Regions from separate parts of the Homo sapiens genome. Here region 2 is linked to region 1. Evidence: fine-mapped expression QTL. A gene starts in region 1. The other region holds a variant in brackets. All regions are shown on one strand. Distances are between the middles of the regions. Region 1 holds the start of CDH22 (cadherin 22). Region 2 has its middle 22 kb from the start of CDH22.

Region 1 (11,404 bases):
TAGAGAACGATCGCTCTGGTTGCCGCAGGGGTTGCAGCGGGAGGGTATCAGAGGCTGGGAGACCAGGGAGGAGGCTGCCACAACAGGTTAGGCATGAACCAGTGAGGTCTGAGCTGGAGAAGGGATCGCGAGATGGATGAGAGGGGAGAAAAGGTAGAGATTAGGATGAAATGAATCTGTGGGACTCTAGAACATGTTCCCACACTGCCGGCTGCATGCAGGGACTCCACCTTCCTCAAGGCAAAGGAAGAAGGATCCTGAAGTCAGAGACGGATCCTGAAGTCAGAGACAGATCCTGGTGGTCCTAACTCAATTCCCCTCCTGCAGGGGTGCAGGCAGCTGAGATCATGTGCAAAACCAAACAAGGAGGAACTGCTGCATTTACCCCATGGGAACCAAGGAATATAAATGGAGGGATATGAGCAATAACAATACTGCTTTATGTATGGGGTGTCCTATGTGCCAGGCATTGTGCTCAGCACCATACATGCTCATGCACATTTGATCTTCACAACCCAATGAGACAGGTATTACATTTTCCTCCATTTCACAGAGGAAGAAACTAAGGCTCAGAGAGGTAAAGTAACTTGCCAGCAAGTCACAAACTCAGGCTGGTTGGACTCCAATGCCTACGCGCTTAATCATCTATTTATATTATGCACAGGAAAGAGCTGGTAACAAGTGGATGGCTGAAGGCTTGTGGGTCTGACGACAAAGCAAGAAGTTCCCAGCCTAATCCCAATGTGACAGCAGGAAGGAGCCTGCTGATGGGGCATGGAGGGAAATGTGGGGGAAGAAGGGAATTCCTCCAGGTTGCTGTACCTCATGTGTTTGAAATCAGACCCACATATTCGGAAAGGTGTGTGCCCATTGTAAGAGAGCTGAGCTAAGGAGTGAGTAGTGAATATATCCTTAACCCCCAGATGGGCCACCTTTGGAGTAATTAAAGAAAGGGATCCTTTTCTGGGGGTAAGCAGCCCCATAGGCCCATGGCTGGTAAGTATATGAAGCCTTTTTGCAAATTAGAGAAAGATGCCCCCTCCTCCAGGCAGGCACAGCCTGTCTTTGGGGCACCTGACTTGGAGAGTGGAGCTTAAAATAGATTTCAGTCCCCGCTCTCCTCCTGCATTAAATGCCCTTGGACAGTCAACAACCTGCCCAACTGCATATAACAGCCATGCCTCCAGCCTTCCTGTCCTGCACCTCTGTTTCCAAGCAGCCACTGTGTATCATCAACAATGAGAAAACGTCCCTCCTGCCAGATACACAGAGCTCAAATCACTCCACAGACAACTTTCTTGTTAGGCCTTGTCTCCTCCATGGGCGGAAAGACAGTCCTATCATGCCCACTGCCCTGATGAAAAGTTGAGGTCAGAGCCTGTCCTCGTGGTGAAATATCTAGGCTTTCTCTAGAGAGGCCAGAATCAAAACACAAGGTTGTAGGAAGGAGAGGCCTGAGTTGAGAGCTCCATCTTAAAGGTGCTTTGAGGAACCCGGGGTGGAGGGTGTGCCCACTCTTGCGGGGGGCATGAGGCTTTTCTCTCTGAGCCTGACCTGAGGCCTGGGTTTCCTCTCAGCCTGTTTCCCCACCTGGTCCCCAGCCCCTAGCACCCTTCCTGGCTCAGCTATGGGGAGGAATGAGGAAGTCCTTGGCCCCGGGGCCTCAGCCCAGACACCACCGTAGGGTCTTCTATTCCCTCACTCCCTCCCAGGCCATGCAGTGCCAGCTGCTACCCGTGTTATATAAACAGAAATCATTCACTCTCTCTCACTCTACCTGAGGCTGCATTTCAGATTGGAGCTTCCTGATGGAAGAAAAAGGGGAGGGGGAAGAACAGAGAGAGAGAGGAGAGGAAGTTTAATTGGCTGACTCTTATCGCCCATGTGGTAAATAAACTGGCTGCTCCGAACTTTGCCAACTCGGGAGGAGACGGGCCCTCCTGGGCTCCCTGCCTTAGCTATGGCCCGGCCCCCTGTCAGACAACTTCAGAATGCAGCGCTCCTGCAAAGCTCTCAGAAAGACCAGTGCCTGGGGAAGCAGCAGGGGCTTTGGGGGTTCCAACCTCTAGGTATGATTATTCCAGAGCACGACCAGAAACATCCAGAGATCACAGCCACCCTTTTGACAGAAAGGCTGTGACTCACCCGGAGGTCACAACACACTTTTAGGGGCCAAACTTTGTCCTCTGCTTCTGCTACTCGGCGTCTCTGCTAAAGGCATTCAACAGCTTTCCTCCGGCACTGGCCTGGGAGCACTGGGGGTCTAACTTGAACACCTCATGCTGAATTTAGAGCAAGTGTCTTCTTGTCCTGCCTGCAGCGTGAAGCCAAGAAACGGCTCTGTTTTGCCCCAGGCCTACCCAACACATAAGCAGCGTTGGTGAGGCCTGGATGTCAAGATGCCTGGGTTCCTATTCCGGCTCTGGGTATAGCTTACCATGTGACCTCGGGCTGCTGTTGCCAATCCTTGAAAATGGAAAAGAGGGCAGCCCAGGTGGTCTCCAATGTGCTGCTCACAGTTAGGAATAGGGAAAGGGGTTGTCTCCAGGGGTCCCCTGATGGGGCCACCCAAGAGGTACAGGTGCCCCTTAGCTGAGAGAGACCTGGCTGGCTTTATAAAGTACCTGCCCCCGAGGCACTGGCAGTGGTGGACCGGGAAGGGCACACAGACATCTCCAGGAAGCAGTGTTTAAATGTTGGCAATGCCCTTCCCTTCCAGGAGGAATGGAAGAGGAGTGTCCCAGACACTGGGACAAGGAGGGAAATAAGGGTGAAGTAGAGAAATGGCTGGGGCAGGGAACAGTTGAGTGCTACAGAAAAACTGAGGCAGACAGGATAGAAGATGGGTCGGGGTTGGGGGGGACGAGGAAATGGTCATTGGTGGGCAAAGACCAAAGGATGTCACTATGGGTGTAGAGGCCAAGTTTCAACAAGGGCTGTAGACTAGGGGCAACTGAGGGGGACGGAGTGGGCACTGATGGACACATATACGGGATACAAATGAAGGACAGAGAGTCGCGGTGGTTAGGGAGGAGCCTTTGGGCCCTAGGGCAGTGGTGATGCTGATATAGGGTATTGGCGCTGACCAGTGGGAGAAGAGGATGAGATCCTGAACCTGGGTGGAGAGGGAGAGAGAGCTGGCAACAGCCAAAGCCCTCAAATGAGCCGCTGCCTGTGCTGGGGGCACCTCGGCCAGCCCCAGAAACCTGGGGAGTGCTGGAATCAGCCCCACGGAAAAAGAAGCTGGCATGCGCAACCCTGGCGACGCCCGAAGGGTTTGGAGAGAAGAGGTTCCAAGGAGCGAGCACCTCGGAAGACCTGAGCAGCTTCAAACAGCAGCTTCTCTGCCCGCCACAAGGGGGTGCCCTGCACCTCGGGGAGACCTCGGGGGATCCTGGATCAGCCCTACCCTCTGCAGCCCCGCCTGGGACAGGGCCCGACGTTGCCAGAGAAGAGGCAGCGGGGAGGCGCGAGCGAGACGGGTCCACACTGTGCCCACCCAGGGCTGCCCGGCACCCCGCGCGCCCACGCAGTCCACTCTTCACAGTAAACGCCGCGGCCCCCGAGGGTTAGCCCTAAGTGGCGCTCTCTTTGGACGTTAGGCTGTCGGGGGCCCCGTCCTTCTTCCCCAGCGGGGACGGTGTCTCCGGAGTCGGGTCCTAAGGAAGAGAGCAGCGCTGGCTCTCGCTCACCGCCAGCCCGCCCGACGGCCATAGGGCAGGGGGGGTCGCGCCGGTGGGGCCGGCAGGGGTCCCTGTGGGCCGCCTCCCCGGCTCAGAGGGGACCAGAACCGTGCGTGTCGCCGCGGCTGGAGTCAGCCTCCGGGTGTCCCCGGACGCGGCACGACCTCGCACACACACACCGCGCGCACACGCTCGCGCCGTGCGGTATTTTCCCGGCCCCGGACCCCGCCTCTGGGAGGGGCCGGGGAGCCGAGCCCCGCTAGCAGGGTTGGGGGACCGGGAACGCCTGGGTCCCAGCCCTCGCGTCAGGGCTGTGCGCCACCTTCCCAGCCCCTTTTGGCGCGCCGGCTCGGCCCCTGGCGCTGCCACCCCTCGGCCCGCGGGGGTCCCGGAGGCTCCCGGGCGCGCGGCGGACGAGGTTGTGGGGACGGGTGGGAGCTGCGGGCTTCGGGCCGAGAGGCGGCTCGGCTCCGCGCCGGGGAAAGTTTGGACGTGGGAAACTCCCTCCCCGCCCTCCCGGCCGAGAGGAGGGGGCGCGCAGGGCCGGGCGCAGGCACCCCGGCTCCTCCTGCGGCTGGAGGCTCGCCCCCCGCGCCGCCTGCCCGGCCGCTCCCGCCGGCCAGGGGGCTCCCTCCCTGCCGGGCAGCCTCCCCTCGGCGGCGATCCGGCCGCTCCTCCCGCGGCACCCCGCGCTCTTACCTCGGGGAGCGGCCCGGGGCTCCCCCTAGTCCTGCCGCCTCGGGACGCTGCGTGGGGCGGGAGCCCCGGCGCGGGCAGCGGGCGAGTCCGGAGCCCCGCGGCCGCCCGCAGGAGCCGGAGGGAGAGCGGGAGCGAGAGGGGGAGCCGCGGCGGCGTGTGCGCGCGTGTGTGTGAGCGAGAGAGCGAGAGAGCGAGAGAGCGAGGGAGTGAGCGAGCGAGCGGGAGCGAGGGAGTGTGCGTGTCTGACTGGGGGGAAGTGTGCAAGGGACGGATCCCTTCCTTCCTCCCGCAGCCTCTGGTGGAGACTCGGAGAATGCAGGGCCCGCCGGGCAGGAGCCGCGCAGCGCCAAGCCGCAGGCGGCCGCCGGCCCGGACCCCCGCAGCCGGGGAACCCCAGCCCCCGCCCCCCGGATCGCGCCCCTCCTACACCAGGAGGGGACAGCCTTTCCCTCTCTCGGGCGGCCCAGTCCCAGGAAACCCCCCAGGGGACAGTGCCCCTCCCTCCTCCAACCCCAGATCCGCGCGAAGGGAGCGCCCCCAGGAGGGGGACCATCTACCTCCTCGCCTGGCAGCTCCCCAGGTGGCCGCAGTTTGAGACCAGAGCCTATTTCCCCACCTGATTTTACTGCGAATAGGGCTTCCCATTTCCGCCCCCTGACTACTGCGGGAGGCCGCCTTCAGAGGAGCAGGGGCGCAGGCCAGGGTAGGAGCAGGCTTCTCGAACAGTGGCCGCCCCGGCTTGCTGCCCAGAAAGGCACCTTGCACAGACCAGATCTGCCAGTTCAGAAACAGTCACTGTGCATTGAGGTGGACACCGACCAGGTGCCCAGGGCTGAGTCTCCAGGCAGGTGGGAGGTCGGGTGTCCCCGGGAGAGAAACTTGTGGGCTTTTCCTCTGGAGAGTCCCGCTGGACATCCTTGCAACCAACAAAGTAAGCAGGCAAAACAAGACACCTCCATCCTTAACTTGGTGCCACCTTGACCTGGAGAAGTCTCCCAATAAAATCTTCCCACTGCCCAGAAACTCCTTGCTGGTTGGGTTTTCCGTTCTTTTAAAAATCCGGCTGGTCTGCTCCCTGATGTTTTTTCCACCTGGCCCTGTTTCTTTCTCCTGGCTGCCTGGCTCTCCTTACTACTTCATCTCTCTGGGATGAGGCCTAATGGAGGAGACCCTCCCACCCCACTCCTGAGTTCCCAATATGAGGTCGTTGATGGTAGGATAGGACCAGTGACTCCCATAGACCCACCCTTTGTCTTGGGTTGTAGGTCCCCTTAGGAGTTGCCCGCCCCCCTATTCCCCATGGCTTCCAGATAGGTGAGTGAAGGATAACAGGAGACTGGACAGCTGCAGACCTCTGTCCCGCCAAGCTGCCAATGACCAGCCATTTAATCACCCACAAGCAGCTGCTGAAGTTCATGGCAAAGAGGGGGCAGGGCCCTCCAGGACCCCCAGCTCTACCTCGCCCCTATCCTTCTCTCCTCCTCGCCTCCTTCCCCAATTTCCATCTCCATCTCCACACCCTAGTCCGTCTTGCTGATGATTGGAATCACCTCTCCTGCTGGCTGCCCCTCTGGCCCCTCCTACTAAACTCCATCATTCATTTATTTATTTTGAGATGTATTCTCCACTGTGCCAGTCTGTTCCCTCCCCTACGTCCTTCTCTTGGTTTATTTCCCTTCATTGATCTCTTCCAGCCTTGCCTTTCTATCGCCTTCCTTTTCTCCATCTCTCTCTTCCCCTCTCCTCTCTATTCTTAGCCTCCACTCTTTCATGCTTTCAGAGACCAGAGGCCAGCCTTCCAGGTGCATCTCTTCACTTTTGGTTCTCTCCTCCCGCTCTGACTCACTTTTGCTGTTTGCTCCAGTTCCCATTCCTTCTTTGCCTCTTCCTCCAGGCTCTGGTGTGTGCTGTTCATCTCTGGAGTCAGACCTACTTAGTTGTCCACAGGTTGTTTTGGTCTGGGACACTGTTGCTGTCACATCTGCATGCACACAGTAGGTGCTCAATAAATGTTATTGAATGAACTGTTGTCACATCTTTCTCTTTTGCTCTGGTCTCTCTCTTCTCTCTCTTTTATTTTTATTTTTTTTTGAGATGGGGGTCTCACTATGTTGTCCAGGCTGGATTCCTGGACTCAGGTGATCATTCTGCCTCAGCCTCTCAAGTAACTGGGACACCAGGCATGTGCTGCTGCACCCAGCTCCCCATGACTCTTTATTAGACCCTCAGGTTTTCCTATCCCAATGTTTCCTATTTTCAGGCTCATTCTACCGTTATTTCCAATTCTTCCTTCCTTCAACAAACTTTCTCTGAGTGTCCACTCTGTTGTGAGCACTATGGCTAGGCTCTGAGAACACATTGAATGTTTATTGAGCACTTGCTGTGTGCCATAGTTCTGCTTTTAAGTCCTCACAATAATCAGATACTAGTATTAGCCCATTTTACAAATGAGGAAACTGAGACACGGTGTTGAAATAGCAAGATCATTCAGACGGCAAGTAGAGAGATCAGGTTGACGCATTGGGCCTGGGTCAGACCTCTCACTCTGGTCTGGGAGAAGGTAAGCTGGGACTCCTGCTGCAGTGTGGCAGGGGCAGCAAGAGGCAGTGTAGTGTGACAGAGGAAGAACTGGGCAGGCCTGGGCTCTGAGAGCAGTTCTGCCCCATGCAGACTGTGTGACACGTGGGCAAGCCACTTCCCCCAGCATTGATGTGAAGAGAAAATGAGATGATAGTAACAACAGTTAACATTTAGTGAACCTGTGCCATGTGTCAAGCCTTCTCCTAAATGTTTTACACAGATAATTTCCTTTTACTTTCAACAAATTTATAAATTCATAATGGGGAAACTGAGGCACAGTGCAACTATGAAACGTGCCCAAGGTCACACAATTAGTTTATGGCAGAGCTGGGATTCAAACCAAGGCAGGCTGGGGCCAAAGCCTGCACACTGAACTGTTGTGCAATATTGCCTCTGGGCAAATAAAATGCCAAGTGCTTTGTAGTTAGAGTTTGAACGTGTGCTTTTTTATATCGTGTGGTGAGTCTACAAATAAGAGAGACACCACTCCTCCAGGGATTGGGTAGGATGAGGAAGGACTTGGGGAGAGAGGCATGGCTAGGGAAGGATTCCAAGAGGAGGCGCTTGTGAGAATTCTCCTTCCCACTCCATCAGAAGGGCACACAGCCCTGTCTTGGCACAGGGGACATGTTTTCCCCTGGAGTAGTCATCTGGGTCCATGGGCATTTCTCTCTCTCTAGCCCAGGGTCACTCCACTTTGGCCCTATTGACATTTGGGCCAGATAATTCTTCGTCATTGGGCATGTCCCATGTAGGATGCTTAGTAGCATCCCCAGCTTCTACCCACTAGATGCCAGCAGCACACCCCCTCCCCAGTTGTGACAACTAAAAATGTGTCCTGACATTGCCAAATGTCTCCTGAAGGGCAAAGTCACCCCCAGTTGAGAGCCACTGCTCTAGTCTGAACGCCCTAACAGCAGGGTCTGCTCCAGGGAGCCTGCAGGTTTGAGCAGGGGTCAGTGAAGGGTGTGTGTGTGTGTGTGTGTGTGTGTGTGTGTGAGTGCATACACGCGTGTGTGTTGGGGATGGGGAGGCTGCTCTTAGCTCCAGGCTCTGCTATTCTCCCTGGCTCTTTTCCTCTTCTTCTCTACACTTCTCTGTCATCCCTTTATCTGTCTGTCGCCTTCTCATGCACTGTCCATCTGTCCTCGCTTCTCTGACTGCCTCCACTCCTGTCTCTGTCTCCTCCCCCTCAGTGTCTCTGGTCTCTCTGACTGTTTCTGAATGGGTGTCAGTCTCTTGCTACCTGCCCCTACATCTTCTCTAGCACCCTTCTCCCCTCCCCCCATCTGCTTATCTCCTAGCTGTGTCCCTGCGTCTGTCGTTCTCTTTCCGTTTCCCCCTCCCTCTGTCCTGTTCTCTCTGCCTCCATGTCTGTCTCCCTCTCTCTGTTTCTCTGTCTCTTCCCATCTCTGTTTCTTCGGGGCACCCAGTCTCCCTCTGTCTCCCTCTTGCCTGTCCTATTCTGGTTCTCTCTGTCCTCATCCCGCACTCTCAGTGCCCCGTTTCCCTTTCTCTCTTCTCCCCACACTTCCTTCTCCTCTTCCTCCTTCCCTCCTTCCTTCCCACTCCCCTCCTCCCGCTCCCTTCCTCTACTCTCCCCACTCTGTGCTTCCCCTCCCTTCCCTCCCTTCCTCCCCCTCCTCCCGCTTTGTCTGTGGGAGCTGGAAGTTAAAAGCTTTTCCGAACTTGTTCTCCAGTCGCTGTTCCCGGCGCCTTTCATCTCGCCAGCACATTTGTAAAACTGCGCAGACTGAAGGGCCGTGACATGAACAACCAAAGAAATGTCAGCGCGGGGACGGGGCCGCCAGCCCGCCGGGGGGCGTAGGGAGCAGCCGGGGCACACCCTAGCCCCTCCCCAGAGGGACCCGGGACCCGAACGAGGGCGCCCCACCTGGGACTCCGGGCGCTCTGCACCTCTGCGAGCCCGCTTTCTCCGCCGGGGCCGACGGGACCGCAGGGAGGGGGAGGGGACTACTTGGGGAGGGGACTCCATGGGAAGGGAACTTCGAGGGGACGGGGAGGCCGCCCTTGGCTGGGGGCGCCAGGACGGGGAGGGGCGAGCCTGCGGGAGCCACAGGCGCCGAGGCCGCTGCGCCCTTAAGCACCTCCACCTCATGGCGTTAATCCTCGCAGACCCCGCAGCCAGACTGCCTGGGTTCAAATCCCATCACCGCCACTTGCCAGCTGTGTCACCCTGGGCAAGTGACTTCACCTCTCCACATCTCAATTTCCTTATAGTAAAATAGAGATGGTGAAGATTGGATGAGCAAATCCTTGTAAGGCACTTAGAATAAGTGTTTGCTGTAATTAATAAGAAGAATAGCAGCAACAACTCACAAAACAGGGTTATCGTCCCCATGCTACCGCTGGGGAAACCAAGGTTTAAGGGGAGAAAGTGACTTGCTGGACGACTCAGACCAAGTCAGGGGACGAACAGGAATTTAAGGCCAGCTCCTTCCTCTCCTTTCCCCTCTTTTTCCTCAAGGAAGTGGGTGCAGGGATGGAACACAAGTTCTAGGAGCTTAAGAATTGAGTCTGTTTTGTTCACTGCACTATCCTCCGAATGCAGCATATAGTAGATGCTCAATAAATACTTGTTAAAGGTATGCATGAATGAATGAATGCAAATGCTGGAAAGGTGCCAAGGTTAGAAAATGGAAAGGCTACTTTGTCTGTGGTGGGCTGGGGTGGGGCCAGGTGGGAAAAACAGGAGCCCAGCACCTGCCAAGTTCCAAGCCTTGGGAACTTGGCACTCCATCCAGGGCCTAAGCACAACGGCAGCACTATGGACAGTGGCTATGGCCCAGGCCAGGATCCAGCTTTACACCGGAAGCTCTCCCGCAGCCTGGTGGGCCCGCCCTGCTTCTGGGCATGACATCTCAGCCCACATCCCAGCTCCCTAACCCCGCTCCTGTAACCTCTGTCTGGGGCTAGGTCCCAACCTTCTGTCTCCTACACACACTCTGTCTCTTCTCTCTCTCTCTCTTTGGACCCAGATCCAAAGCCAGTGGGAAAGACGCGCCTCCCTCCTTTCCCTCTCCCTACCTGTCAGCCCTAGACAGCTTCTGCAGCCCTGAGGCCTGACACTGCAGGTGGCTGCGTGGAGATGGGAATAAGAGTCCCCTGAGCTTCCCTGAAAGTCCCTAAAGACACAGCAGAGTACAGCAGAAACTGAGCACTTGGACCTTCCCTCTTGAGCCCCCTTCCCTGGGGTGGTGGGGTGAGACAGCCCTACCACACTCCCCACACACACTTCAAACACCGACTCTCCCTGAATTATTCACCTGCCTCTCCCCAGGGCTGCTGCAGAGCGCCCAGCCCAGGTGCTGAGGAGGAAAAAAGCAGAAAGGCCCATTAAATTTAAACACCGCTGAGGATTGTCAGATGTGAGGTTCTATTCCTGGCCTAGAGAAGAGCCGCCAGTGGGAAGGGAAAGGGGATCTGCAAGGGGATGAGGACGAGGGACCCACCCCGGGCCGAGTGACCTGCTGAGCACCAGGAGGGCTGGGGCCAACATGCCAGGGAACCCGGACCTTCCTTCACCTGAAGGTTCTCACCCATGAGGAAGTGGACTTTGCCGTACCATTTCATTCATGTTGTTCTGGCAAGAGAGGAGGACCCATCTAAGAATAGCTTCTCTGCAGCTACCTGAAAGCCCACCATTATGGCTTCAGCATGAGGAACAGGGCATTGCCTCTCCAGCTTCCTCTCCAGCTGTTTCCTTCTTGCACCTTATATTCTGGTAGTGCCAAACTCTTTTAGCTTTTATCCACTCTGAGCTTTTTTAATGTTGTCCCTGCCACCTGGAGCTCCCTCTCTTCCTCTGTTTTGCTGGAAAACTCCTATTTATCTTTTGAAATCCAGCTTAAGTATTAATCCAGCAGGTGGCATGAAGCTGTCCCACCTCTGCACTCCACTGGACCTGGAACACATGTCCCTGTTTTCTTCCCTCCTCCTGCCCCTCATGGGTAGCACAGCCCTTGACTCTCATGCCTGATGGGGCCATCACAGATGACGACTTCTTAGGAACAGGCAGTTGGATGCCACGGAGAAAGTGCTAGGTATCCTGAGAAGCCTAAGATCTTCCGGCTGTGGCTCCGACCTCAACTCTCTCTGTGTTTTGGGCAGGTCTCTAGTTCTTTCTTTTCTTGGCCTGGGTTTTCTATTGCATAAAATAAAGGAGGAGAGGTGGGGGAAGATTTCATGATGACCAAGAGCCCTTCCGGGGTCCAGGATTCTCTGCTCCACACGTAATTTTCCAAGCCCTGTCTTGCGTCTTCCCTGTGTGGATGCTGCCTGGCCTTTCTCTTGTTGACACCTGAAGCAGTGATGTGCTGGAACTGGTTTGTGCTGGCTTATCAAAGCCAGTTGTTAGAGTCTTTTTCCAGGAATTTTGCAAGCCAGGTTGGCAAGCCCTTGAAATTGGCCAGGTTGAGAAT
Region 2 (11,404 bases), 21 kb after region 1:
AATGTTTTATGTTGCAAGGTGTTTTTTTGTTTGTTTGTTTTTTGTTTTAATTTAGAGACTTCTGAGTTTTCAGAATTGCTTGTGAGCCTGAGGAAACCTGTGGCTCTGTTGCAGAAATCCTCAGCTGAGTTCAAACACAAGAGCCCTGGCCATGGAGTACAACTGTGGGTGAATGCCTCTCTTGAGACCTCGGTGGCCTCCATATAATAATGTGTTGAAATAGACAACCTCTCAGCTGCCCCCTGCAGGAATGTCCCATGATTGTAAGATGGGATTTTGCAGGGAAGAGGCTGCAGTGCACTCTGAGAGAGGTCCCAGCCATACAGTCTTTCACAGGTCTATCTCCCCCACCACTTCCAGCCCCTTTGAGAACAGGAACTGCGTCTTTTCATTGCGCTGTCCTTAGCACCTTGCAGAAGGCTGCCTGCCTCATAGTATGCCCTCAGGAGAAATTTACCCATCTGCACTGCTGATTGTACCTGGAAGTGAGCCCTGGCTCCATTTCATGCCCCTGTCTAGAGGTGGTAGAATGGAGTGGATAAGACAGTGTGCTCCCTGGGTTTGGATATTGACTTTTGTTTGCTGGCTGTGTGGCCTTGGGTAAGTCGCTTCACCTCTCTGAGCATGTTTCTTCATCTGTAAAACTGGGGCAAGTCCTCCCAGAGCTGTCTGGCAGCATGAATGAAAAACTGATCTAGCAGCCAAAACACATGATTCCTGCCATGTCGTGGGCAATCAATACACGTCAGGCCTCTTGTATCTCCACTGCTGAGTGGAGTGCATTCCATCTTGAGATGCTAAAAAATCTTCAGTGTTCCCACAGTTTGGGTTCCAGAGTAGACCCTGAGAAATGGATTCAAGGGCAAGTAATTTATTTGGGAAATGATCCCAGGAAGCACCAGTAGGACAGTGGGAAAGTGATACAGGAAAGGCAGGCAACCAATACCGGGTGCTTTATCAAGCCTGTTACTACTGTGGGCAACTGGAGCTCAACTCTGCTGGGGAATTCTGGGAGGGAGAATAGGACTCACATCACAGAGCAATCCACTCCCATTCCCCAGCAAAGGGTGAGGGAGGAGCTGGGGTACTTATACTCTGGCTTCAAATAGTCATCAGTTAAGAGCTGGACATTAATTTCCTGACTCTTTCAGTCTGCCCACTGGGAAGCAAAGTGGCTCTGGAGGCCTGAGAAAGGAACTCAACCAGGCATGCCCTGAAAGGCTAAAGATGAGGTCCTGACACCTTTTTGGAAGGGCAGGTGAAGCAGACATCTCAAGTAGGATGGCCCCAAAAGATTTAAAGGTAGGATTCGGTGGCAGAAGGGGAGTTAATGGGGCCTGATTCTTTGTTGCTCTCCACTCTGATTGCCACCTGAAATTGATAGCTGGTACCAAAGGGCAGTAGTGTCACCTTTCAATAAGATGAAATCTATGTCTCCAGCGGATGGAGACGACAGGAAGATTTATCAAGGCCCTGGCAAAATTAACATTTGGACGGGGGACACGGCAAGAACAGCCTCCAGAGGGGGTCTCTTTGCATTTATTCTGGCTGGTTCCTGCCAGCGGCTGGACTGGAAAGAGCTGCAGGGGTCAGCCATCCAGCTGGCCTCTCAGGGAGGGACGCCTGGACAGACAGATGCAGACACCCAGGGCAAAAGGAGACTGGAAGGAGAACTGTCATCTTTGCTGAGCAGGGAGGCCACCAGGGCACTTGGAGCTGAGTCCTTGCCCTGCCACTCACTTGTTGAAACCCTTTGCCTCAGTTTCCCCATTTGAAAGACAAGGGTATTGTGCTCAATGCTTCTAGCTCTGGCAATCTCTGAGACCATGACACAGAACAAAGCTCTGCCCGGGTGCTATCCCAGCAGTCTTGGGAGGTGAGCATGAATACATCCACAGAATGATGGCTAGCCTGGGTTGAGTACCTATTACGTGTCAGGCACTGTGATAAGTGCTTTACTTGTACTTCCTGTAATACTTACAATAGCCCCATAAGGTAGGCACGGTGGTTTCTGCATTTTGCCTTTGAGCTCAGAGAAGCCAAGTGACTCACCCAGGACTACACAGTGAGTTTGGGGCCAGGTAGACATCGAAACCCAGGTCTACCGGTTCCCAGTGCAGGGCTCCTTCCACTGTAGTCATCCTGGGTTCCAGTTCCAGGCCCTCTGATACTGAACTTCCAAAGGAGTCTCAACTTCTCTCTTGCACAGGAGGATGTATCCAGAGCTCAGGTTCTGGATCAAGATAAACCTGGGTTTGAATCTCAGCTCAATCAGGTCCTTGCCGTGTGGCCTGGCCTGAAACATTCCACGGGAGCCTCTGTTTCTTTGTAAAATGGGCATTGGAGCCATGTCTATCATGAAGATGACATGAGGCAACATGCGTAAAGGGCCGGTCTCTAGGGTCACTGGGAAACAGGCTTCCATGTACGGCCTCCTCCCCTCTCCATTATTCCACTGTGGACTTGCAGAGCTGTGTGGTTTGCATCTGGGGCACATGTGGGAATTAATTTGTGCTAAGGAGGTGAGGTCCTCCCTCCAGGTGAGCAGTGTGGGACAAGGGACCCCAGCAGGCCTGGAGGATGCTGGGACAGAGGCCTCCGCTCAGAGAAGGAGAAAGGCAGGGCCGATGGAGGAAAGGCAGGTGTTGGGAGCAAGTTCCCCTGCCCCACCTCAGACACTTGCACTGAATGCGCCCTCTGAAGCCCCAGCCTTCTACCCTGGAAACACCCTGGGCCCTGGGGTGGAGGAGAAGGAAGGGAGCCCTTGGTGGGAGCTACAGAAAATTAAAGCTAAAAATATGTCTGGGTCAGACCTCAGTTTCCCCATCGGTGAAATGGGTGCAGGCAGTAACACCCCCACCTTAGGCCTATTTGAGCGTAACGGGGTTTTTAAAGTTGGGATTCTAGGCCCCTCACAAACCTGAAAGACATTCACTGTGGGTGCTGTCTGGACTCTGAGCAACTTACTTAACCCCTCCATGCCTCAGTTTACTCGTCTGTGCAATGAACGTAATCATACTTAATGCACTGGGCTGTTGTTAGGATGAGGGGGTGAGGAGTGCTGTCCTGAATAGCACTAAGAACAGTGTCTATGTCTAGGAAATGCTATGCAAATCATGGTTGTTGTTTTTATTACTAATATTATTAATATCATTATCATCATCTCAGGTGAGGGAATGCGGGGCCCGGAGAGGGGCAGAGGCTTGGGAAGGCCACATGATGGTCAGGACTGTAGCCTAGGAGTCTGGCCTTGGACCACAGCCTCAGCCCAAGTCCTCAAACATCCCCTCCCCCATCAAGGCTGCCACATCCCCCTCCCTCACCAGGGAGTGAGAGGAGGCCCAAATCCAATTAGCCTGGGAGCCAACTGCAGAGCATCGCCCCTTTAATATCGCAGGAGAAGCTGCAGAGATAAATGAGAAATTAGAATTCCGCTGGGGTCCCTGAGACCCGCCTGCCGGCCCGCCCTGGGCTGGGGCTGCGGCAATTCTCCTAGGGACCCAAGGAGCTGTCTGAGCCCCAGTGGAGGAGGTGCCCCTGAGGGGCCCTGGGCCAGTGCCTGAGTTTCTCCTTAGGCCTGCCAGCCGCTCCTACTCCCAGCCTCCCATTGCCCACCCACCTTCCCCGCTGCCGCCATCCCACTCCCCTCCCCGTCAACCATAGAATTCACCTTTCCTCTCGAGAGACCCATTCCTCTCCTCCTTCCACAGCCCCTCCCTCCCAGTATCCGAGGGCATCAGGGCAAGGTCTAACCCCATTCTTGGCACGCCCCCGCTTCCCCTTCCCACTCCCCTCCTCTCAGTCCTAACAAAACCCAGGATCCTTCCCTCCTTGGGCTAGGACTGACTCTGCAGCTGAGGCCTCTCTTGGGCCTGGGGGATTCTGGGGAGGACATCACTAGTCCCCCTCAAGGAAGAGGAGGTTCAGGGTCTGTAACAGGAGCTCCTCCTGAGCGTTCCAGAGTAGGTGTGCAAATGAGGCATCTGCAGCCCCCTCCTCTAGAGGGTAATGGGCTGTCATACAAAGCCGGCAGGTCACCACCACAGCCCTGCTGTGGCCTTCCATAGCTCCCTGTCTTGCACAAGACTCAGTTTCCCCTTATGTACAATGGAGAGGGGCTGACATAGGTGCAGGCCTAAGATCTTGGCTTGGACACTTGGCCCAACCCTGGGAAGCAGGCAGGCCCCCCTATCATCAACCCAGCCCACCCACCTGCCTCCCTCCCTCGGGGGACATATTTGCTGCTGGGAAAGTTAATCCATTACAGTTTAAAGGCTCCGTTCCTCGCTGGCAGTAAATTACCTGCTTTGCATTTTGCAGCAACAACTTAACGGTATTAATTTATTGTGCTCTGTCTTTAACAAACATCATTATCATATTGCCAGCCAGGATTATGCAAATGGGAGGGACAAGGGAGAAAGAGGCTGAATCTTGTCCCCAAAGTCACCTTGATTTATTAACTTTGGGGCCCTGCAATTGGCCAGGTCTGGGAGGTGCAGGTGAGTGCAGAGGCCAGGAGAACCCACAAAGTCTGGGCAGAGAGAGTCCTGAGGCCAGAGGGGGACTCCCAGGGGAGGGCACCCTTGGAGGGAAGGGCTGGCTGGGGCTTAGAGGGATTCCCTTGTCAGGTGACTTTGGACAAGTCCATTCTGTCTTGGGCTTCGGTTTCCCCACCTGTAAATGGAGGTTGAATTAAGAGGTCCCTGGAGCTCATAACATATGAACTTGAGATTCAGCAATACATTGTGAATGAGTGAGAGAGAGAGAGAGAGAGTTTATGTGTTTGGGCAGGGTGGGCTGAGTAGAGAAGAAGCCACGTGGTCCTGGGGCTGCAGTGCCCCCATGCCGGGCTCCCTGGCTGCTGCGGCTCCTGAGCACCAGGCTAGTCATGGATGGGCACATGGTGGGAGATGGGTGAGCTGGGGCTGAGAAGAGAGGGGTCTAAGGGAAGGGGCTACTTCTGGGCTGAGAGTCTAAAGGCTGACGGCAGGGGTCAGTTCATGAGAGGGTCTGAGACTTTTAGGCTATACACCAAGATGCTGGGTTGGGAAGGGGAGGCAGGACCATGCCAGGCTGGGAGGCAGCACCCTTTAGCTCCTGATTTTGCATCTGGCCTGGGGGCTGGGCTGGCTGGAGGTCTACTCATGGGGTCCTAGGCCTCCGCACAGCCTCCGGCAGCTCCTCCTGAGCCTCCTGGACTCTGAGTTTACCCCGAGAGACTCTAGGTTGGGCTGCCAGGGGAGCTGGAGGCAGGTGGGCTGGGCCCCCCCTCTGCCCCTCCCTGTGCGCCTCCTCCCTTGGGCTGGCTGTGGTGAGAACCCGCCTGATTACACAGCTGGCTGCCCCCGGCCACTGGGCCTGCTCCCCACCACCTGCAGACTGGCTCTGCCAGGAACTCACTGGGACTACATCCAAGCACCCGTGGGCGCCAGCCCAGGGTTCTGCCCTGGCCATCAGGGTCCTTCCCGGGCCCTGCAGAGGCGCCAAGGTGG[G/A]AGCTGGAGAGGGGCCAACAGAGAGGAGATGACACCAACCTGGCTGGCCAAAGCTCTGGCCTGGCGGGTGTGGGGTGGTGGGGAATTCCACGGGGAGGGTGGCACCCCCTGTCTACTGAATTCCTGAGTGGCCCCCTCTGTGGCCCCATCCCTGCCCTGCCTTTGGCATTTTGCCAAACCTGCCCTTGCCTCCTGGTGCCCCAATCTCTGCCTCAGTCTCTGAGCACCCCCACTGCCCCCTCTACTTGCTCTGTCCTGCATCGCTGTCTCTGGGTCTCTCCCTGTCATGGGGGATGGGGCTAGGGAGGGAGCAGGAAGCAGAGGGAAGAGGTATTGAGGGGGCATGGAGTGGGGGAGCAATTCAATTTCCAGAGTTGGCCCTGGCAATACCGGTTGTGTCGTGATAAGAAAGCCATTTCCCGTGATGGCTCCTAATCCACACCCTCCTGCCTTTGCATGCAGCAGCTCCCTTCATCTGCCTGTGGCCAGAGGCTGGAAGGGATCCCTGTCCACTATGGAAGGGGCCATGTCTGCTCCAAATGAACCATGCTGAGCAGCATCTGTGTGGCCGGGACAAAGACCCATGCCGAAATCTACAAGCCCAGGAGAAGCCGTCAAACCCGATGAATAATCCCTCGGACTGTTCTAAATTCAGATGGACATGCACAGCTGTGATCTAATTTGAGCCATACATCTGCCCTTGAGAGAAGTAGGGATCACTCCCATTTTACAGATGGGGAAAGTGAGGCTCAAAGTGGTTCAGTGATTTGCCCGAAGCTACACAGCAAGTGCGTGTAGAGAGAAGCGCAAGTTGATGTGTGCAGGGCTGAAGTGTGAGGTGAGGGTGCAGTGCGGGAGCCGCAGCCTGGGCTTCGAAGGTCGGGGGAGTAGGGGAAGGAGGGGAAGGAGACAGGCAGGGAGTATGAGGAGAGGTGAGGAGAGGTGTGTGCTGGGCAGCAGCTCGGTGGGAGCCCAGCTAGGAAAGGAGCCTCGGGGTGGCCTCGAGAGGATTTTAGTGCTGTCTGGGCAGGGGGTCTGTGGGATACAGACCTGGGAGGGATGGGGGCATGGTGGTCAGAGAAAGAAGCTGCTGGAGGACACAGGCGAGCCAGGACCACAGTCAGGGAGGCAGCTGTGACTGTCAGCAGGAACACGGGAATCCTCTACGAGACACCTACACCTGAGTCCTGACATCAAAGGGGTTTCTCGCCTCTCCGGTCGCCTGGTTTGGAGCTCAGCTTTCTTGAAAACTTTCTTCCTGCCAGTCTCCTGCACAGGCCCTGGACACTCCTTGGGCTGGACTGGGCCCCTTTTCCAGCCACACCCTTCACTGGCTGGGAGGGTTGCAGGGAGGCCTCGGGCTGAGCCAGGCCCTTCTGCTGGCTCCCCTGTGGCCCGCAGGGGCAGAGGAGGGAGGGCAGCTGGGCTGGGGATTCAACAGGAGGGGCAGTCTAGGTGAAGCCAGCCAGGCCCTCCTGATTTGCTCCCCACCAGGAAGTTTTCTTTGTTTGTTTTGGTTTTTCCTTTTTGTTTTATTGAGACAAGGTGTTGCTCTGTCGCCCTAGCTGGAGTGCAGTGGTGTGATCACAGCTTACTGCAGCCTTGACCTCCCAGGCTCAAGTAATCCTCCAGCCTCAGCCTCCCAAGTAGCTGGAATTACAGGCACGTGCCACCTCGCCTGGCTAATTTTTAAACTTTGTAGAGACGAGGTCCCACTGTGTTGTGCAGGCTGATCTCAAACTCCTGGCCTCAAGATCAAAGTCTTGGCTTCAAGTGATCCTCCTGCCTGCGCCTCCCAGAGTGCTGGGATTACAGGCATGAGGAGAACTGACCAGGAATACAAGCAAGGATGGATCCCGAATCCTGTTTGTCTCCCTCTGCATCCCTACCCCCCACTGCTGACTCCAGAAGGCCTGGTGGGGAGCGGTGGTGGATCTGGGGGCTACAAAGCCGGGCAGGATTGTTTACCCTCTCCCTACCTTCCCCTCACTGGCCCAACTGTGATGGGGGTGAGATGGCAGGCTGGGGCTGTGGGAGGCTCCCAGAACAGCTGGTGGCTGTGCAGGGCCGTGGGTGGTGGCAAGTGGGGACCTGCTGGAGCAGGCAAGCTAATCTCATTTGGTTGCTGCAGTCGCAAACAAGGACTGCATGCTAAGTGGCCAGAGGCAGCAGCGGGACTCAGGGCCGACCCAGGCCCCACGCATACCTGGGAGCACCTAGAGGCCAGCCCTGGTTTGAATGAGGAGCCATGTTGGGCAGGGGCAGGGGAATAAGGAGGGGGAGGATGCGTCTTGTGGGGTAAGAGGTTACTCCCCGGGAAATACCTGCTGGGAGATAGGGCGCCAGGGTCAGCCAGCTCCTCCCAATCCTCTGGCCTCTCCTCCTCTAGCCCTCCTCCTGTAGGGTCCTGGATCAGATGCCACTGGGCAGGAGGCATCTGGAGAGCAAGCTTCATCCCCTTTGCCAGCAGAATTGTGATTGGAGAGAGGGACCCGCCTGTTCACAGCAGAGCATGAGGGAGGCATCGGGGAAGGTGCTGGAAGAGGGGAGGGGAGGGGGCTGGGGGAGCCTTGAGCCTCGAGGCCCTGCCCAGTCACTCCACTCCTCTGAGCCTCTAGGGGCTTGTTTAGAGGCAGGGCCAGGGAGGTGCAAGAAGATGCCCTGGCTGTAAAAAGGTGATTGGGCTTGCGACTCTTGTGAAATGGTCTGAAACTATCTTTAGCTTAGATGGGAGTGCCAGGCTTGCAGGGCCCAGGTTTGGCAGATGAGCCAGGCCAGAAGCCAGTGCCCTGAGGGCTTCCTGACTGCCACCCACACTCTCCGCCCGGCTGCCACTTCTCGGAGCAGCTGGTACCATCAGCTCCCAGGGAGAATCCTGAAATCACACAGGTAGCTCTGGTCTTTGGGCAAAGGTTTGTGCTCTAGACGTGGGTGGCCTGAACTTGGGGCTGCATCATGGTAACAGATGGATTTGAAGGCAGAGCTTGCAAGGGAGTCCAGATGGCCACAGCCACCATCCAGGTCTGTTTTTGGTACTTGCTGGGCCCCTGTGGGCAGCTCCATTTGCAACCCCTTTGGAGCTCCTTAGCTCAGGTCTTGCTGATAAAAATAAGCCCTGCCAATCACAGGGGGCTTGAACCACTCTGTGACTCAGCTTCCACATCTACCCCTGAGGGGCTGCTAATGAAATGAAATGAGGCATCTCAAGTGTCCTGCCCAGAAGCCGGTGCAAAGGAAGTTCTGTTTTCGTTTTGCAGCATCTCAGCCCAGTGTACCACAATGTTCTATCATTACAGTCTGATGGGCCTTTAGAAAAACGGCTCTGCTTCACTTGCTGTGTGACTGTGGGCAAATATCTTCACCTCTCTGAACCTCAGATTCTCCATCTGTAAAGTGGCAACAATAATACGTACTTTATAGGAATGTTGTGAGGAGCTAAAGAAGAATATAAGCAAACTTGAATAAGGCAATAAATATAAACACAGAACAGTATCCAGTTGGCAATAGGTGCTTGATCAATATCTGTTGCCTGTGCAACACTTTACTTTTCAGGGGGATACACTGAGGTCCAGAGAGGGGAAAGAGTTCATCCAGGATCCCAGCTGGATCAAAGGTCTCCTGATGTCTGCTGGAGGAACAAGAGAGAGGAAATCCCTGGCCTTTTGTTTCACCAACTGTAAAATGAGAGGGCTTCACCGATCTATGGTTTCCAGCTGGGATCTGGGCTCTCGGGGGCCACTGTTGGAGTCAACACCAAGCCCGCGGAGCTCCGGGACCACCTTTTCTGGTTCTCAGTCCACGTCTCTTTCACTCGTGAAGGGCTGCGGAAGGCTCCACGTGAACAAACTTCCTGCCGCTCAGCCTTGAATGTGTGAAAGCCCCCTACTTGTTTATTTTCAGGGCTCCTGGCAGCGCAGACTCTCTGGGACAGGGATTCCTCCCAAGACCCCTGCCCAGGTAGACCCCCTATGTCCTGGCCTGGGTCAGGGTTGGCTCAGCTGCCTGGAGTGGGTGAGCAGACCAGAAGCATGACCCTGCCCCACCCCCAGCCAGCTGCAGCCCGGGCCTGGGATGCTGGTTCCGCCAGCAGTTAAAGTCCCCCTGGTTGTCTAATTTAATCACAGCTGTGTGCACGGTGACTCTATAAATAATTTTTAGTGCGACATAACCATTATTTCACTAATTGCTTCACGCGCACCCCTGGCCTGTGAGATAAATTAAGGTTTGCTGAGTCAGCACCTTTGGCTGATGCTGCTTTGGGGTTTGGAAGTACAGCCCCAACAACTGGGCTGTTCCCACACCAGCCTCAGCCCAGCACTGAGGGGAGGGCGCCCCTCACGTGAAGTGGCCAAGGGTAGAATGAGTGAGGAGGAATGAGGAAAGGGCTAATAAGGGTGGCCATGTACAGTTGCACAGGTTGTGTCCTGCACCAGGGTGCTTGGCTAAGGGGGCAAGTGGGGGCTGAAATCCAGCCCATACTACACTTTTGCAATCCATGTGCTCTGACATGGGATTTTGTTGGCCCAGAAGAAGGTGGTACCTTCTTTTAATTTGCACAAAGGCTAGGAAGGAATCAGCAGCTCCAGAATGAACTACCACATAGCAGGTTGTCAGGGCCACCTCTCTGAGAGAGGAGGCCAGGCAGAATATCCTTAAGGATCTTCTCATGTTAGCAACAGCATGGAGACCCAGGCTCTAGATCTGATGCTGAGTGACCTGGGCAAGTGACCTTCCCTCCTCTGTGTTTTAATATCTTGACAGTTTGATCCCATCCAGAGCCTGTGTTCTTTCCTCTGCCTATCATACTCCAAATTCAGTAGGTGTGGCTGGAAAAAAAGGTTCACATGGTCAAGTACATTTGAGAAACATCGAGTTAAGTGGTTTCTTTCTGTAGAAATTTTCAGAGAGCCTACAGTGTGTTCAGGAGCAGCAGACTTGCAGGGAGGGGTGGAGATGGTGTAGCTTTTCCCAGTGCATTTGGCTGTGGAATCCTTCATTTTAGGACTCTTATTCATCCTGGGATCCTAGTGTCTATCTCTGGGCTTATTAGTGAGTGGATGTCATCCCCAAGGACAGAGAACGCTCCTATTCCTGGCCATAACTCTAGACTCAAGGCACTTCCCTATCTGTCATCTAGATCTGATGCTGAGTGACCTTGGGCAAGTGATGCAAGATTGCGAGTGGGCAAGATTGCTAGATCTTGCCTTCCTTCTTTGAAGGAAAATCTAGCAAAAATAGGTCTCCCTTCAAATCGGTGAAGTGTGGGGGGAGCATCCTGAGTCCACGGGACTCGAAGTTCCTTGAGGGCAGGTGCTATGTCTACCTTATTTATTGCCAGTTCCCTGGGGCTTAGCTTGGGACCATCTCTTGAGTGAATGAATGAGTGTCTATTTTGAAAAGAGACAGGAAAGGAGATAATTGGCTTCATATCCTGCCCCAAACCTTACTGGCTGGTGACCTTTGAGCAGATTGCTTCTGAGAGTCCAGTGCCACCACAGCTCTGTGTCTCTTTTGTCAAATGTAGATCAAGGACCAGATATGGTGGCTCACGCCTGTAATCCCAGCACTTTGGGAGGCCAAGGCGGGTGAATCACCTGAGGTCAGGAGTTCGAAACTAGCCTGGCCAACATGGTGAAACTCCGTCTCTACTAAAAATACAAAAATTAGCCGGGCATGGTGGTGCACACTTGTAATCCTAGCTCCTTGGGAGGCTGAGGCAGGAGAATCGCTTGAACCCGGGAGACGGAGGTTGCAGTGAGCCAAGATCGCTCCACTGCACTCCAGCCTGAGCAGCAGAGTGAAACTCCGTCTCAAAAAAAAAAAAAAAAAAAAAATTAAACTCTCGGTACTTCAGCCATAAAAAAGGAACGAGATCATGTCCTTTGCAGAGATACGGATGGAACTGAAGGCCA

The links. PIP is the estimated chance that this variant, and not a neighbour inherited with it, causes the effect.
Region 2: its variant is fine-mapped to the expression of CDH22 in pancreas (GTEx, PIP above 0.99).

What each region holds. Positions count from the first base shown.
Region 1 is chr20:46,303,873-46,315,276 of GRCh38, forward strand. It overlaps CDH22 (cadherin 22), which reads right to left and starts at 4,626. Exons shown (of 12, transcript NM_021248.3): 1 at 4,383-4,626. RefSeq lists an enhancer at 9,343-10,291.
Region 2 is chr20:46,324,916-46,336,319 of GRCh38, forward strand. No RefSeq gene overlaps it. Among named protein-coding and RNA genes, the nearest start is that of CDH22, 22 kb to the left of the region's middle. The variant G/A (reference allele first, on the strand shown) is at 5,493.